2 separate regions of the Homo sapiens genome follow, and region 2 is linked to region 1. The links come from fine-mapping of genetic effects on gene expression. A gene starts in region 1. The other region holds a variant in brackets. All regions are shown on one strand. Distances are between the middles of the regions. Region 1 holds the start of LY86-AS1 (LY86 antisense RNA 1). Region 2 overlaps LY86 (lymphocyte antigen 86).

Region 1 (8,000 bases):
TTATTTTGTTACATTTGGGAAAGAATTCTGAAAGATGCAGAGGAATATCTGCTACTATTTGGCCCGGGACTAGCAGTTCAACCACACTCAGACACTCTGTCTCCAGTGCCAAGTGGTTCTGTTTCTCTAGAGAACCCTAACACACCCCCCCATTATTAAACAACCATCCAGTACTGTTTTATTGAGCAGTCAGAAGCAGACCAGCTTTATTCACATTCTGTTAACCCAATTTTTCCTTCCCTCCATAAACTGTTTGCTAGAGGCAGTCTTGCCAGTGCAGCTAAGCTGCCTGTGGCTGGTAAGGTCTCCTGGGCCCTCTACGCCCTTTCTCCTCCGCAGGTCGTGCCTCTATTGGAAGCATGCTTGTAATACCTAACATCCTCCTGGGGCCAGCCTGTGTTCTGCCAAAAGCACATGCAGGAAGCAATACCAGCTCTTAGAGTAATGTGGGCCACAGGGAATGAGCCATGAATGTTAAGATGTGTTTGAAGAAAAGTCAGTGTTCTTAATCTCAGGATGGTAGCCAGATCTAAGTACTGGTATGAGAAGAAAAAGAGAAACAGAGAGAGAGAAAGGGAGGGAGACAGGGAGAGAGGGAAAGAATGAGAGACAGGAAGAGAGAAGAGGAGAGCTAGGAGAAAGGGAGGGGGAGAAAGACTACCTTTACAAAGCAGGAAGGACATTGCAATCTTGGGGTTGCACTTGGCCATGAGTATGTGGAAGGCTGGTGGAAGTGAGATTGGAGGGGGGTCAGCTCCTTTTCACAGCGACTCTGCTGTAAGAATTCTACCTTCCCCTGAGAGGAGGAAGACCAATTTCTAACCATTTTAAACCCAAGCAATAGAAATGTAAAAAACAGGCACATACATGCGCTTGTACACACACACACACGAATGATTGTTAAACTGGTGACATCTGAATAAACTTTGTGGATTGTATCAGTGTCAATGTCCCAGTTTTGGTATTGTCCTCCATGTAAGATCTTACCATGGGGGATGATGGGGAAAGACATATGAGACCTCTCTGTATCTTTTTGCAACTTCCTGTGAAAATATAATTATTTCAAAATATAAAGCTAAAGAAAAACCTCAAGTAGAGCTAGAATATGGAAAATGGGACTAGCTGTGTAAGAGTTGGGCCCTCCTCTATGCCTCAAACTAACCAGCCAGCAACGCAGAGGCCACAGGGGGCGGAGCTACATCCATGGCCTCCAGGACTTAGGGACATACATCCAAGCTTTCCGGCTGCCTGAAGTCAAATCAAGGATTGGTCCAGTGGAGTGTACCCGGGCCCCCACCATCCTCTGCTGAGGAATTTCACTTCCAGAGTCTGTGTCATTGGATTTTGTCTTCTTCCTACTGATTCCAGTTGAAAGCCCACTGCTAGCTGTTAATAGAAGCCATTCTGACAAGGTTGTCCTCCCCTCGACAGCTGCCCAGGTCTAGCCCAGCCTAGGCCACTAATGGAGGGTGGAAGGCACAACAATACCTTTGGAGCTGATATTTGTTCAAACGCTGCTCACTCTAAACCTGGCTTGTTTATCCAACTCTATTTTACTCCATGAATGTCCAAGAAAACTTTTCTAGAAGAGATTTGATTGTTGCTGCCCTTTGTATGCAAAACAGATGCTGCTGGCTGCTCTCCTAGAGCTCTTCCTCACTTCTGGCAGGGTTCACATGCTGCTGGTTTGGAGAAGCCTGCCTTCGAGGGCCCACATGCCCGGGGGAGAGGGGAGCAGGGGCAGTTTGGGGTGTGCTGGATTCACCCACTATAATGCTGTCCTCCCTTGGGTGGAAGCCATAGAAGTCAACAGGACAGACAGCAAGGGAGTGCCACATAGAGGCCAAGGAAGAAATATTGAAAATGAACAGTCTTCTATTTCGTGATGAAGTTTTGACTTCTTTCCTCAGGTCATTTGCTGAAATACAGTGAAGTATCTGGAGGAAACACTTATCTCTGCCCTTGAATTCCCAGAACGCCAACTCTGATTAACTTTCCGATGTTATTGCTTCAGAAAGTCCAAAGTCAGATGATCCGTCTTACATGTATTAAAAGTTACTGAGGCAAGGGTCCAAGGGAAAGTCTCTCCGCTCTCAGCCTGTCCGTCACTGTTCATACTGTAGAAGGAGAACTACTTTAAAATGCAACCTACCATCTTTTATATTGGTAGGTGATTCTGAGGCATTTGCAGGATAGGTAAAGCCTGGAAATTGATACAGTGATTATTTAAAGCAGTGATCGCCACCAGGGGTGAGTTTATCCCTCATGGATACTTTGGTAAGGTCTAGAGATATTTTTGGTTTCACAACTAGAGGGTATGGGGATGCTACTGGCATCTGGTGGGTAGAGACCAGGGATGCTTCTAGACATCCTATGATGTGCAGAACAGCACCCACCACAAAGGATATCCAAAACAAAATGTCAATAGTGATGACATTGAGGAATCCTGCTTTAAGGTTCTCGGCAAATTTACTACAAATAACCACTACTATTCATCCAGCAAACAATCACTGGAGATTTAGTATGATATTAAGACATTATGTATAGCCCTGGCACTGGGGAGTTAGCTTTGCAGTATCTAGTGGAGGAATGACAGAGGTATACAAACAAATATAATGTAATATAAAACATGCAAAGTGCCTGAGTGGAAATGCAAATAAATACAGAGAAGGATATGAGTTTGAGAGGGTGGGGTTGGGGGAGGAGGAAGAACCAATGTCACTTTCCCCAAGAGGACCACAAACTGCATGTTTACACTCAAAGATATCACTCTTGCATATAAATTTGAAATAACTGCTAGGAAAGCTCACCAAACCCTTAAGCGCTTTTTAAGCAATCTGTCTTTCTGCTTTTATATACATATCCTCAGAGAGATGCAGCCTACAGCTTTCTTTGTGACTTTGTTCTTTATTGAGATTATTTTCCTAACAACAATGTGTTTCTAGTACCAAGAAAATGCTTTATTTCCTTCTCCCGCCCTTAGTTGATTCTTTCTATCTATACCTTTAAAATATTGATAAACATACAGTGTAATTCTATAGCTGCTAATCAACAACACAATACGTACTTAGCCTCTTTTATTTTGCCTGGATAGCAACTTAAATTTATCCACAATTTTGAGGATTCACCTTCCTAAGCATCTGTTCATTGGCTTCTGTCTTTTTCAATACTGAGTGCCAAGGATGTAGCAGGAACTATCGTCTCCAACCCCCTGCTCCTATTTTCCAGGCTGAAAGAAACCCTGGGACAGCACAGAGATACTTAGGAAGGAGTCCAATGAGCATAAGACAAAAGGGCTCTTTCCCACCCTTAGGAAAATTAGTGACTGGACCAAAGGGGTTTTGATCAAACAAAAGTGTACTTACGTTAGATTTGCAAGGCTGAAATTGCCTAGTGATCATTTCCATTGCAGATATCATAGACAATGATGCATCTTCCAGGTCAGCAATGTGGATGATAAAACTGTCTGGAACACTACATTGGCAAATGTGAGCTCATAGCTAAGCTGAAATGGAAATCAGTTATGAAACAGAACTACCAGATGCCATATGCCTGCACACAAAATATTCTGGGCAATCTTACAAATCAAATAAGTAACATATGTAGTTGAGGTTCTACTTTGTGAGTTTCACTGCACAATACCCGGGAGCAATTTGTTTGTTTGTTTGGTTTTAACTCTGGCTTTGAATCTTGACTCTGACACTTTCTAGTGTGGGGATCTAGATAAGTTAATACAACATCTCCGAGTCTATATTTTCGTAACAGTAAAATGAGGTAAATCATACCTATCTCTTCAGATTATTGTTTATTCTGCAGGTCTGGGTGCTGTCAGGAAAACGAAGACCATATCAGTTATTTTAACAGAGAGAATTTGATATAGGAAGTTGGTTAGAGAACCAGTTGCTGGAGAACCAAAAGAGCAAAGAAAGGACCCCTGAAGGCTGGGAGAGCAAAAGGCAGAGGTTGTGGGGATTAGAAACTGGATGCTTGACAGAAGGACCCTGTGGAGCTGAGACACAGGCTGCTAAGGAAAGGGTGACAGCTTCTGATGTGCTGTTACTGCAGTAGCTTAGGGCCCCGCAGAGCTGAGTCTCAGCTGAAGCTGGGAAGGTGCAAGAGAGCTGGAAACTGGAACCAACTGCCACTGCCAACATGATGGGCCATCACCAGTGACACTCCCAGCAAGTACTCACGAAGGAGCAAGTCCCTTCTTCGACTCCAGCCTCCATCTCTCTGCTACCTTGACTGGCAGACAGTGAAGGAGAAACATGATTACCGAGAGCCCAGTGAAAAAGCAGAGGAAAGAGGGCTGGATTTGGAGCTGAGAAACAGCCCCAATATATGGCCCATCCATTCACTCAACATGTACATTTATGGAGTGCTTACTGTGGATCAGACTGTGAGGCTGTGAGGCTCTCTGCTAGGTGTTGGGGAACCTAGAGAATTAAATGGAAAACACTCCTAAAGTACAAGGCTCAGCTATTAGTACAAGGTAAACCCTCTGTTAAAAATAGCTCTCCTATCTCCAGTCCAGTGGGAAACATAAAGGAAAAGGAAATGGAAAGCAAAACAAACAAAACAAAACAAGAAACCAGCTCTGGCCTTTAAGAAATCTCATGTTTAGATTCAGTGTTGCAGGATAAGCCACGTAGCAAAGTGCAGAGTGATACATGTTTGTACACTTTACCAAGAATGCCAGACATCGCTGTTTTAAGAGTTCAAGGAAGCAAGAGAATATATGGGGGCAGGGAAGCCTTCACAAAGAAGATGGGAATGAGCAAGACCTGAGGATTTAGATAATGGCCAAAAAGACTAAGACCATTGCAAATGGGAGAAAGCACACAAGCAAATCAAACATGGTGGGAATGTGCTGGTGTGTATGTTGCCACTCTGGCCTCAAGGAATGAAGGATGGATTTGTGATGTGGAGGATGGAAGTTGGAGCCAGTCGCTCATTTCTGGACTGTATTCTGAGGCATAGATAAGCCATTGGAGCTTTGTGAATGAGCAGAAGTTGTATGCAGAAAATATTATCTTTATAGCCCCTATCATATCTAACACAATACCTTGTACATAGTGGAATATTTGGAGGAGGAAGCATTACATTAAATGGGATGGGATGGGATGGGATGGGATGGGATGGGTTGGGATGGGATGGGATAAAATGGAATTAGAAAGGCAGGTCTTAACTTTGAAAATCTTTTTAGAAAATATTTTGAGCCTAAGTATTAATGTCTACTCAAGCTCTCCTAACTTTTGTATCTCCCTCTGTTTTGATAATAATAATAGATACTTTATTAAATCCGCTATGCAATCCATGAGCAATTTTAAGGCCAAACGTTCAGGAACTAAAAAAATTCAGGCAATGATAAACATTTTCTATGATAAAAACATTAACAAGTAAAGATATAACCCAACTAGCAAGACCCTGTTTATTCCATGGATGGAGGCCCCCTGTTGTCAGAGTGAACATGATGTTGGCTTTGAAGACACGGGGGGGAGCTGATGAAAATATCATGGGCTTATTTTAAAAAGTGTTGGGCAATATGCTTTTGAATAAATGTAGCAATTCATGTGAAAACAATATTGTTGCAAATTTTGAATATGTTTGCAAAATATACGATGTACTCGCAACTAATCTATTGTTTTCTTCTTCGTAGATCCATTACAAGATTTTGGCTTTTCTGTTGAAAAGTGTTCCAAGCAATTAAAATCAAATATCAACATTAGATTTGGAATTATTCTGAGTAAGTAAAAAAAATGATTAGCATGAAATAAAACATTGCACAGCCTCTTCCAACTCCACACACCCAATGACTTATGTTAACTGTAATGACTGGCTAAACTACTGTTCCCTCACCACTCTCTGGAATTAACTCTATTTATATCTTCATTTTCAAATCTTTCTCTGGGTTATATTCAGGTAGGGTAGAACTCTCACTTAAAGCTGTACTTTTGTATTAAAAAGACTCTAGGCACTCATTTGGATGATATAAGCACCTGGAATCAGTATACCCAGCAAAAAAAAAGGAAAATATTTTGAGATTAAGTATTAATGTCTACTCAGGATCTCCTAACTTTTTTAGTTATCTCAGCAACAAATAAATCTACTACCAGCGGTACGGTTTGTCATTTGTGTTATTTTGTATCCCAAATAGTTAATACAAATTCTTAAACTTTGACATCGGCAAGGAGGAGATGTAATATTTTCTCTCCTACCCCAATCAGTAAGCTAGAGCACTTTCTGATTGTTTAATTTTCATATGATCATGCAATTATAGTTGGTCAATATATTTTCTATAGCTACTAGACGACCTCCTTTTCCAAAGCAGTTATATCAAAATCAAAGTAGAGAGGTTTAATAAACTTAGCATGTGGAATCATTCCAGAGAAATGGAGGGAACATTCATAGAAATCAAGAACTCTCACGCATCTTTGTATTTCTAGAATCTTACACAGTATCTGGACTCTAGCAGCAGCTGGAGAAATGTTATGGGGAGAGAAAAAGCGAGAAAAGAGAAATAGAAGAGTGGGTGGAACATAAAAGGGAGGAATGGAGAAAAAGAGAGAATTGGAAGCCACCACCATGGAACCCGCTGCAGCTTCCTGTGCACCTGTGCTGCAATACCTCCCTGGCAACAGCAGCAGGTGTATGTAGGCGTGACCACACCCCACCGCCATCATGGGGAACAAATGATACTATGCAACTGAGAAATTCCAGAAGCCAGACCTGCAGACATCACATTAAAAGGCCATAGCATCAGGGTGGGGAGCTCAGCTGATTAACTACCTTGTTCCAAGCAGGTATTTTGAGAAACAGCCACCTTTCATACGCAGGGCCCCATCATAATCCCCTGTAGCATTGCCTAAATGCTGTTTTACCAAGGAAAGAAGAAAACTGTTCCCCACACAGAGAAGATTAATGGAAACAAAAGGTTCTTTAGCTCATGCTGCTGTATACTGTGAATGCCTCTGATACACAGTGAAACACGCAGTAAGAGTAAAGCTGTTCTTCTCTTTCCTCCAGGAGAGGACATCAAAGAGCTTTTTCTTGACCTAGCTCTCATGTCTCAAGGCTCATCTGTTTTGAATTTCTCCTATCCCATCTGTGAGGCGGCTCTGCCCAAGTTTTCTTTCTGTGGAAGAAGGAAAGGAGGTAAGCCATCTGTCTTGCTCACTGCTGGCAGGGGCCTGCAGAGAGATAAACTCGAACTTGCATCTGAGGCCAGGACGCCCAGACCAGAGCTCTGTCTCTGCCCCTCGCCTTTGGACGAGCTTATCCTCACTTATCAGCATGTGTTGCAGAAAAATAACAATAAGGCCCATTCCATAGGCCTACCTTACAGGGCTGTTGTGAATATCAAAATGAAATGACACGTATGAGATGCTTTAAAACAGAACATTGTTACTGTGAGTAGCAGCATCTTATAAAAAAGGGCTGGCAGCAGAAAGAGCCAAGAGGTTCCAAAAATCCATTGAGGTTCAGAGTGCTCCCAGGTTTTCCCTCCACAACTTCCTTAGTGGCAGGATGTCCTTAATATAGTAATGGACTTCAAAAACGAAAAAAAAAAATGAAGCTTATGATATGTCACCACCTTTCCCACGTGGGTCATTGACTAGCAGGGCATCCGGGAGTTACACTCGAAGTAGAGAAACGGAAACCCCATTATATTAGCTACCTTTTCGGCAGTGCACCAACCCTCTACCGCCTGCCATACAGCCTTGAAGAAAGGGCAGGTCACCTTCCCCCACCTGTCCCCACCTCTCCTTTCCTCCTTGTCTTTACCCACAGCTTCACCAAGGCCCTGAGATGCTTCCGCGGTGTGGTTAAAACCTGGCTCTATTCTCTGACTGTCCTTCCCCAGGAGTGGTTCTCTCCCAGCTGCTCTCCCCTCCCAGGGTCTCCTTCCTACTCCCACTGGCCAAGGCAGGGCATACCCCCAATACACCCCTCACCCCACATCTCAGAAATACTCCTTTATCTATTTTCTCATTCAAGAG
Region 2 (9,981 bases), 33 kb after region 1:
TGTGATCATGTTTTTTAGCTCCCACAGATAATTGAGAATAAACAATATTTGTATTTGTGCCTGGCTTATTTCACTTAAGATAATGACCCCCAGTTCCATCCATGTTGCCACAAATGACAAGATTTTATTCTTTTTTATGGCCATATAGTATTCCATTGTGTATATATACCACATCTTCTTTATCCATTCATCCATACATAGACACTTAGGTTGATTCCATGTCTTTGCTGTAGTGAATAGTGCTGCAATAAGCATGGGGGTGCAATTACAAAAATGTAATCACTTTAAATAGTTTTGTTTACAACCTCATCCTTTCAGTTCTCCAAAACCTGTATTTGGCTGAAGAAAAAGGTCTCTTTCTCCATAAAGAATCTCTAACTTAGTTTCACCTCTGGGTTTGTTTCCTTTCTTTCCCAGCCTCTGTGTTCCTATGTCAGAGTGCCATCTTGCTACCATCTCAGATTCCCACTATCATTGCTCTTGCAGCTGGGAAGTCTCCAGCCCTCTCCCTCTGGAAATCTCTAGTTTCCTCCTCAGGCCTTTCAGTAAAATACAAAAGTTTTGCAAGAAAGAAAAACTACACCTGTCTTCACTTCTAGTATGAGGGCCCTAAACTCTCCCAGAGAGTTCCATTTTTCTTTAAATCTTTGCTATTTGAATTGTTTTTCTTTCCCCATTGTTCTTCTGACCCTCCTCCCAACTAGAGGCTGACTTAAAATTTACTAACAATTGACTTTCACTTTTGCATTGTTGGCTTCTTTTTAAACCAGTTACTCAGCAACTGTTATAAGATAGAGGGGAAAAGAACTTCTTAAAGTCAGAAAACCCCTTTGAAAGTAAGTTGAGAGGCCAGGCACAGTGCCTCATGCCTGTAACCCCAGCACTTTCGGAGGCCGAGGCAGACAGATCACTTGAGGTTGGAAGTTCAAGACCAGCCTGGCTAACATGGTGAAACCCCATCTCTACTAAAAATACAAAAATTAACCAGTCATGGTGGTGCACGCCTGTAATCGCAGCCACTCGGGAGGCTGAGGCATGAGAATCGCTTGACCCCAGGAGGCGGAGGTTGCAGTGAGCCGAGATCACACCACTGCACTCCAGCCTGTGCAACAGAGGAAGACTCCATCTCAAAAAAAAAAAAAAAAAAAAAAAAAAGGAAAAAGGTTGACCAGATAAGTAAAAAGCTTTATTTTAATCACCTACAGTGCATGAAGGAAGTGCAGAACGTAAGTTCTTCAACCGCTGATGGTACTCAAGCAAATATTGCCCAGTGTGAGGGCATCGCATGTACAGCAGAGAGAGCTGGAGGCCTTAATCCCAAAATGGGCTCCCTACACCGGCTGCAGGTCAGCCGTGGCTGGCCCGCAATGCACGGAGGCTTTGCTTTCTTAATATGGAACAGACACAGTTCAAAGACTTTTGGTTGTAAAAGACGTACCCCATATCCCCTCCTCCAGCTAAATCCTCCAGAGATGGGCTCTGGGCTAATGGCAGTTCCCATGTGGCCAAAAACGCTCCCACTCAGCGATCATTCTCCAGGGTCTTGGTATTATTTCCCTCTGAACTCATCCAACCCCTTGGCCCGGATTGAAGCCCTACCTGCTGTCCTCTGTCTATGCCTCCTGCTTTCTGAATGAAAATTTAGGGGATCCTTTGGGCTCCCGAAGCATGTGGACAACAACTTGTAGGCACAGCCTGACCCATGTATTGCCAAAGGTGCACCTACAAATTCCTAACTTACAAACTCTGTGCCCTCCTCAACAGCAGAAACGCTGCACTCAGTCCTTCCCTACCCTGGCCTCCTGGCCTCCCAGCACACACCTCCATCTGCCTCCAGCCTGGCACGCTTGCCTAAATATTCTTATCTCTTATACCAGAGTCTGTGATATCTGTAATTCATAATCTAGAACCCCTTCCTTCAAATACAACAGCTCCTCTTAGGTTCATAATGTAGTAATGAAAAATTCTTGTGTTGTTCAATACATTTGTAGGTGTGTGTCTAAATGCACATAGAGATTTTAAAGAAAAGTACATGAGGAGGAAGAGAACGATGAAACACAACGAGATATAAATTTGAGCCGGTCTTTACTCATAATTAATTCTCTAACATTTGGACTGCTTTGGTTATATTCCTAACACTATTTCTAAAATTACAGCTGCTCAATATTTGAGGAGTGTGACTCATGGGAGCGTCTAGAATCATGGAATCACACCCAAGGCACCATCCAGAGCACAGCCTGGTTCTCTTGAATACAATTTCAGTGTTGGGGACTCCACTCTCTTTGGAAGCTCTGCTCATTGCTAGAAAGTTGCTCCCTTCTAACAAAAGCCACCTTTCATGCAGCTTCTCTCCGGTGGTCTCACCTACTCCTTCCCTCTTGCTTTATACAGATTAAACTCTTTCCTCCTTTGGGTGACAGGCAGTTCAAAGATGTGCCAGCAGTCTCCTGGCCTCCTCTGCCACAGTCCCTCTGCTCCGCTTGCGACCCTCCAACCACCCCAGAGCATTTTCCTCTCCAGATTCGTGTCTACAAACACATCACCGCTCCGTGGCTGCTGGGGTGCAGGACTGGGGTGCTGGCAGCAAACAAAACCAGAATGGCTCTTCTACAGTCCTCATAGGACCTGGCTGCCAGGTGGCTTCTGCCAAGCTGACTGCAAAGGAAGGGAGACCTCCTTACAGTGTTGCTGCCAGCAAGGATCCCCAAAGGCAGCCATTCTTTCTGTGATGGTGCATTTTGGTTTTGTGCTGGTGAACTGTGCTCCCCGGGGTCTTCTCTGTCTGAGCATACAAACCTTTCTCCTTCCAGTTGCTCAGGCCAGGAGCCTTGGAGTCACCTTTAACCCATTTCTTTCTCTCCCACCCACTTGCGTTTCCTCAGCGGATCCTATTGGCTGTTCTTTCAAAATCTCTCTGGCACCCAAAGCCTTCCCCCACCTCCACCTCTACTCCAAGTCATCTTCATCTCTCACCTGGATTCCTGCAATCGCCTCCCATCTGGGCTTTTCAGTGAGGCAGCCAGAGGGATCTTACCGACACAGGCGCCAGGGCAGGCCACCCTCTCCTGACCAGAGTCCCTTTCAGAGTGGAAGCTGATGTCCCCACCATGGCCTTTGAGGCCCTAAGAGTCTGGCCTCCTGTGTTGCCCTTACCTCACCCCCCCCATCCCCCCACTCCCTGCAGCCCCACTGGCCTCCTTCTGCCCCTCTAAGGTGGGGGCCCCAGCCCATAGCAGCACTGCACCTTCTTGCATCTGCTTCAGGTCTTTGCCTAAATGTCGTCGTCTCAGCAGGGCCTCCTTTCACCACCCTGCTCAAAATTGCAGACCAGCACTTGCCTTGACCCATCCAGTGCTTCCATCCACTCCCTTCCTGCATGAGTTTTCTCCATGACATGAGCACCTGACACACCATACATAGTCACATATCATAAGGGTGGTCTGTCTCTCCCAGAGATGCTGTCAGCTCCACAGGGCAGGGGTTGGCTTGTCTTGTTCTACGTTATCCACAATGTCCAGAACAGCACCCAGCACATAAAAGTTTCTCTGTAAATATTTGTTAAATGGTTAATTGTACTGTGGGTCACACGTCTAATACTTGACCTGTGCCCCTTGCAGGGAGAATACCAGGTTTTGCTGGAACTGTACACTGAAAAACGGTCCACCGTGGCCTGTGCCAATGCTACTATCATGTGCTCCTGACTGTGGCCTGTAGCAAAAATCACAGCCAGCTGCATCTCGTGGGACCTCCAAGCTCCTCTGACTGAACCTACTGTGGGAGGAGAAGCAGCTGATGACAGAGAGAGGCTCTACAAAGAAGCGCCCCCAAAGAGTGCAGCTGCTAATTTTAGTCCCAGGACCAGACATCCCCAGACTCCACAGATGTAATGAAGTCCCCGAATGTATCTGTTTCTAAGGAGCCTCTTGGCAGTCCTTAAGCAGTCTTGAGGGTCCATCCTTTTTCTCTAATTGGTCGCCTCCCACCAGACTCACCTGCTTTTCAACTTTTTAGGAGTGCTTCCTCACAGTTACCAAGAATAAAGAAAGCTGGCCACCATTGTTCATTGTGGTTTGTTCAAAGAATCTTACTACAATGCTGTAGTTAAAAAGTCATTTCCTCCAGATACAGTGCCGGATGCTGGTGCAGCATAAGCAGTTCCAAGAAATTCAGGAGGGTGACAGCCTGGCTAAAATTAGAACACTGGGAAAATGTGCCATTGCTTCTCCTGGGCAGGCCCCCACCCTTGGACCATGAGGGCCGAGAAGCTGATGCAACCTCACGAATAGGGACATCATACTCTCGCTTATCCAAACATTCATTTCACCTTCATCCCTCAAAGCATGATTACACTTGACCTCAGCATATGCTGGCGTTCATTACTGCATTCATTAATGAATGCAAGGAATAACTCCTGAACACTTAATGTGTATCAGGTGCTGTGTTCTTAAGTTGTCTTCTACGATGCTCTCCGTAAATGAGCATGTTGCCCATGCTACTTCCAGAGCCATTTCTGCGGCCCCGTCTTCTCTCCTGGGATGCACTGATCGCATGGTGGGCTGCATAGCCCCTTCACCATCCGACGCCCCTGTCCTTCCAGTGTCCCTGCTGGCCCTCTTGCTCCTGCTAAGGGGCTGGAGTAAGGTGGGTGAGTTGACACTATCATTCATAAAAATGCCACTATATTAGAGATTAAAAGAGAAAAAAATTCCATAGTTTAAAAAACAGTAGTTGCT[A/G]TTAATCACTGTTTATACATCAGTAAACCACCTAGAATAGCAGGTCAAAAATGCCTGTCAAACTTTAAAACCAGCATCTGAGGTTTTCTGGGTTATGAGCAGGCAAAATTGCAGCAGCGTCCTTGCCTAGGCCCATAATGCTCGAGGGAAAAGACGTGCGTGGTCATACTAGGCTCAGGAGCAAACCTCTGAACGTACATGGGGGTGACGGTGTTACGCACAAGAATAGCAAATGATTCCTGCCCCTGGCCATTCCCTCTAGCTTGAGACATTCACCTCTCTCCCTTTTCAGTAACCATCACCACAAGTAGTAAAGTCCCTGGCTAGACTCTGTGTACGCACATGTTCTAACAGTACAAGACAGCTGTCACAGCCTTCCAAAGACACAGGTGGAACTCAGCCAGTCCCTTCCCAATCCCTTTGCCCTCTTCTTTAAATTGACTGTGTGGGTGCGTGTGCGTGAGAGAGAGAGGGAGGGAGAGAGAAAGTTTCAGATGCTATAGGTTTGTGTTAAACTGGAATTTCCATATATGGAGACTATCCTAGTCATAGCTGAATATACAAGTACACAGCCGTTTCACTAAGGACATGATTTGAGAGAAAAAAAAATGTTTCTTTGTCCCAGAATATGTCTTTTCTTAGTGTCCTGTCATGGGCCTTAAATTTCACCATTAGTTTTATTCCAGCAAGTTGAAAACATATTTCAATGTTCAGGAGTCTCCTCTTGGAATACGAACAGCCCTGCTAGGAGAAACGCTAGAGTCTGTCATTATTTAACACTCTGGCAGGATGTAGTAACTAAGATGACTTTGAAAGGGCCAGCCCAGGAAGCAGGGTTGTCAGGGGAGGTGGGTGACCCCAAGCCGAGCCCTCTCAGGCTAGCCATTGTGTGGTTACTGGCTGGGGTGGGGTCAAAGTGCCCAGACAATCTATCAAACTAAATTGACTTCTCCTGTAAAGAGAATTGCTACTGTTTCAAAAATCACTATCAACAACTCCAAAAATGTGTCCTCAATAAACTCTTCTGAAGAAAAAAAAAAAAAAAACAGCTTGGTTCAGGATGATGCAGTGCTGCCACAATTAAGGAATTATTATGAAAATCAGCCAGCTTCAGACATTGGAGTGCCCACCAGCCCTTCTTTATATTTTGAGGGCAATTTCCATCGTTACGTATAGAACGTTTTAAAAAATATTTTTGAGGAACATTCCAGTGCCCAAGGGAAGCTTTGTCAGGCTAGAGTCTAGGCAGAATGCTGATAAAGCCCCTCAGGACAGTGTGATCGCATCTCTTAGAACGTTTTGGCTATGAGGAACAGAGAACTCAATTGAATCTGGCTTATGCATAGGGGACTAGGTTGTCTCCCATGACTACTGAGTCCCAGGGTGGTTTAGGTGTCAGCCAGCGTTTGCTGCTGAGGTTCATTCATCATCGGCTCTTCACCTCCATTTCTCCACAGTTCTTCCACCTCGGGTCTCCTGGAATATTGCCTTTACCCTCAGACAGTCTGTCCCACAATAGCAAATCATTTCAGTAGCTGGAGACCTCACATCCACACTGTCCACAGTACAGAAGGCAAAAGAGACCTTTATCCCAAAACCCTGTTACTCATTCTGATTAGAATGGCTTGGGTCACATGACCTCTCCTTGTAACCACAGCAGACCAATCTGGCTCAACTCTTATATGATAAAGTTGTGAGTTGTTTTTCGGTTGCCGTGGACTCCAGGTTGAAGGTTATGTAACCCGAGCATGCCCAGATGAACCAAGTATGCGACCACAGGGGGACCTCAGTGCAAGACTGAGGAGTGGGAACTTAATTAAGAAGTGAACACGGCATGTCAGGATCCAGGATCCAATCATATCAGTTTCCAGCATCACCCCATGACGGGATCCAATCAGATCATGCCTCCCAGCATCACCTCATTGCAAGATCCAATCAGATCATGCCTCCCAGCATCACCTCATTGCAAGATCCAATCAGATCATGCCTCCCAGCATCACCTCATTGCAAGATCCAATCAGATTATGCCTCCCAGCATCACCTCATTGCAAAATCCAATCAGATCATGCCTCATGACCCCATGCTTATAAAACCTGTCCTAAACTCCAACTTGCAGAGACAGGTTGGAGTGTTTCCTCCTGTCTCCTTGCTGGTAGACTTGCAGTAAACCTTTTCTTTTCTTAAAAGCCAGTGCAGTGGGATTGGCCACAATGCACATTAGGCAGTGAGCCCATTGCTGGCTCAGTAACATCCTGACCAATCACTTTGACCCTACCCTGATTGGCTTAGCCTATGTCACATGCCCCACCCCTAGACCTGGATCAGAGTTATTCCCACTGGAACCACACATATCCTTAAGTGGAAACTGGGGAAGTTGCCAAGGGGTAAAGGGAGAGGAAGGGCATGTTTCAAACTAGGCCAAAGGACATGTCCAGATCATGTCTCGAATTAGGCCAGTTTTAAGTTCTAATTCTCTCCTAGCTGTTCACTGGGCAAGTGACTTTTATTGTCTAAGCCCCAGTTTCCTCATCTGTAGGTGCTGACCATAATAATAGTACCTATCTTGTAGAGACAGTGTGAGAATTAATGAGAAAATGCATGTAAAATGCTGAGAATAGGGCCTGGCACGTCACTCAATAAAAATAAGTCATTATTATGTTAAGGTGGGTGTTCACTTGCAGTGCTAAAGCCTCTTTTCCTAATTTACCTCTCCCATCCTCCTACATCATCAGAGCAAACAATCCTAGAAGCCCAGCCCTCACCCATAAGCCCACATTCCCTTCTGGGTCCTGAGATGGTCCCTTGGCATCTTGATTTCTTCTAAGTGTAGCTAGTTTTATTAGACCTGGCATGGGGGCATGTTCCCTGGGCCATGAACTCTGAAAAGAATTTAAGGAAAACATTTGGATACACCTTTCTGGCCCCCAAACAGAAACAATATAACCAGGCCAAAAGGGCCTATGAAAGAAAATGTGGGCCAGGTGTGGTGGTTCACTCCTGTAATCCCAGCACTTTGGGAGGCCGAGGTGGGCGGATCACTTGAGGTCAGGAGTTCGAGACCAGCCTGGCCAACGTGGTAAAACCCCGTCTCTACTAAAAATACAAAAATCAGCCTGGCGTGGTGGCACATGCCTGTAATCCCAGCTACTCAGGGGGCTGAGGCAGGGGAATCACTTGAACCCGGGAGGCAGGCAGAGGTTGCAGTGAGCGGAGATCATGCCATTGCACTCCAGCCTGGGTGACAGAGCAAGACTCTGTCTCAAAAAAAAAAAAAAAAAAGAAAATACGTGTATTTTTTTAATTAAACTTGTTTCCTGCACACAAAGACACACACCCAATGCCTGCATAACTAAATGTGACATCTGCAAATGTAACAATTACGTCTGCCTTCAGGAAAGATAATCCAAAATAGCTAGCACGAGAACAGAAAGGGCCACATCCTGATGACAACCCAGACTCGTTAGAATGGCGGAGTTTATTATCTCAACAGTTCAACTGCAGGTTTGAATTGGCCGTATTTTTCTCAATCAGCAAAACAAGTTAGTCTACCTAATTTTCCAATCATTTTATCAGGCAAGCAGGGGTCCTATAGGGCTTATAAAAGAGTTATTTTCATCTAGTTTGTAAATGTCTTCAGTTACTTAGTGTGGAACGGAAGCCTTCAGCTGCATTCAAATGCTCTGGCCTGAAATATTCTTCTCCCCTTGCGCCCAGCTTTCTTTTCACATGTGACACAAAACCACCTCCTTTCCTCCAGTGGTTTGGTCTCCTCACTTCTGTGGAAAAGGGTATGTATCAATGTTCCTTTAGCCAAAAACAATGATACCTTCTGCCAGCTGGTATTTTTCTGGATTTCCCTGAAACCCACCCAAGGGTGGAAAAACAGAAAATATCCCTGCCACCGAAGACTTTATCATATCATTTCTTTCCTTTTCTTCACTCAGAAGTGGTAGAAGAAAATTCAAGAAAGAGCCAGAGAACATCATTGACATAATCAAGGGGATGCAATAAGGTTTCCACATAAACTACAAAGATTAATATATGTGAGTGCAGAAAGATAACATCTGAGAAGGCAGAACAACCACCATGATAATAATAATTGTGTAAAAGCTAACAACGATTTGTGCAGGCTCTCTGCGCCAGCATTGTGCTCGGCCTGCATCTCAATACTTCATCTCCAGAACAGCCTGTGGGTGCGTAACACAATGGTCCACGTGATAGAAGAGGAAGTCTGGGTTTAGAGAAATTGAGGAACTGGCCTAAGGTTCCCCAGGCTTGTGAGCTCCATCAGTGAGCCAGGATTCAATTCTGTCTCACTCCAAATCCAGGCTCTTTCTACCTAATGTTGCTTGGCTGTTTGGAAAGACACCATATAATAAAGAAACACTTCATGGTTTTAGTTGCAGGCTTGCAGAATGTGTTAACTCAAGCAGCAAATGAGCTAAAAACAAAGGTAGGCTAATGACAGTTACATTAACTCAATGATGACAGCACAGAACAAAAAGGGATCATGAATACTAGTCAGTTTCATGATTTGTTCATGCTCTTCCACAAAAGCTTTTGGTCACTCACTGTCAAACCCACCTGGGTGAATGTGCCATAAGCATAATCTGGCTTTTTCACTGTTTTCTTCTTTCCCTTCGTAAATCTTTAGTCAGCACCTACGGTTTGCTGAGCATTGTATTAAGCACAATACATCAAATATAAAAAATAAATAATATATAGTATAATCCCAATTCAAACTCAGCTTATCTTTTAGGAAAAGGGAAGAAGAAGAGTACCAAAAATCTCCTGTGATGGAGAAACCATGGTAAGCAGCACAAGACAAGAACAAAGCACTGTGGGGGGCTTTGAGGCGGGGAGGACACGTGGCTTGGCTTCACGGTAGAAGGAGGGAACATGCTGGCCCTTGAAGGTTGGCTGGGACACTGGAGGTCCTGGTGCCTACATGTTGTGGACAAGCTCCTGGGGGCGGAGGCAGAGTGGGAGGAATGGCCTGGGGTCCCAGCTCTCTCCCTAGCCCCTTGGTTTTGTGGCAGAGCCTCCTGCAGAGAGAAGCAACAGCTAGGAGCTAACTTTATAAGGGATTTGGAGAAATACCAGGGCACCTGCAGCATTTCATGGGGTCCCGGTGGCAAGGTGGCATAAGGGCAGGAGGGTAGGGCACAGCATAGCTTGTTCCATGAACCTGAGGGGACCCAGAACACAGAGGACGGAAGGCCAGCAAGGCATAGACCCAGGCCCCTTG

Evidence for each region.
Region 2: its variant is fine-mapped to the expression of LY86-AS1 in whole blood (INTERVAL, PIP above 0.99).

What each region holds. Positions count from the first base shown.
Region 1 is chr6:6,619,267-6,627,266 of GRCh38, forward strand. It overlaps LY86-AS1 (LY86 antisense RNA 1), which reads right to left and starts at 3,560. Exons shown (of 8, transcript NR_026970.1): 1 at 3,366-3,560. It overlaps LY86 (lymphocyte antigen 86), which reads left to right. Exons shown (of 5, transcript NM_004271.4): 2 at 5,660-5,746; 3 at 7,027-7,155.
Region 2 is chr6:6,650,927-6,660,907 of GRCh38, forward strand. LY86 (lymphocyte antigen 86) reads left to right here. Exons shown (of 5, transcript NM_004271.4): 5 at 3,618-4,056. The coding sequence ends at 3,701. Among named protein-coding and RNA genes, the nearest start is that of LY86-AS1, 33 kb to the left of the region's middle. RefSeq lists a silencer at 2,931-3,121. The variant A/G (reference allele first, on the strand shown) is at 4,734.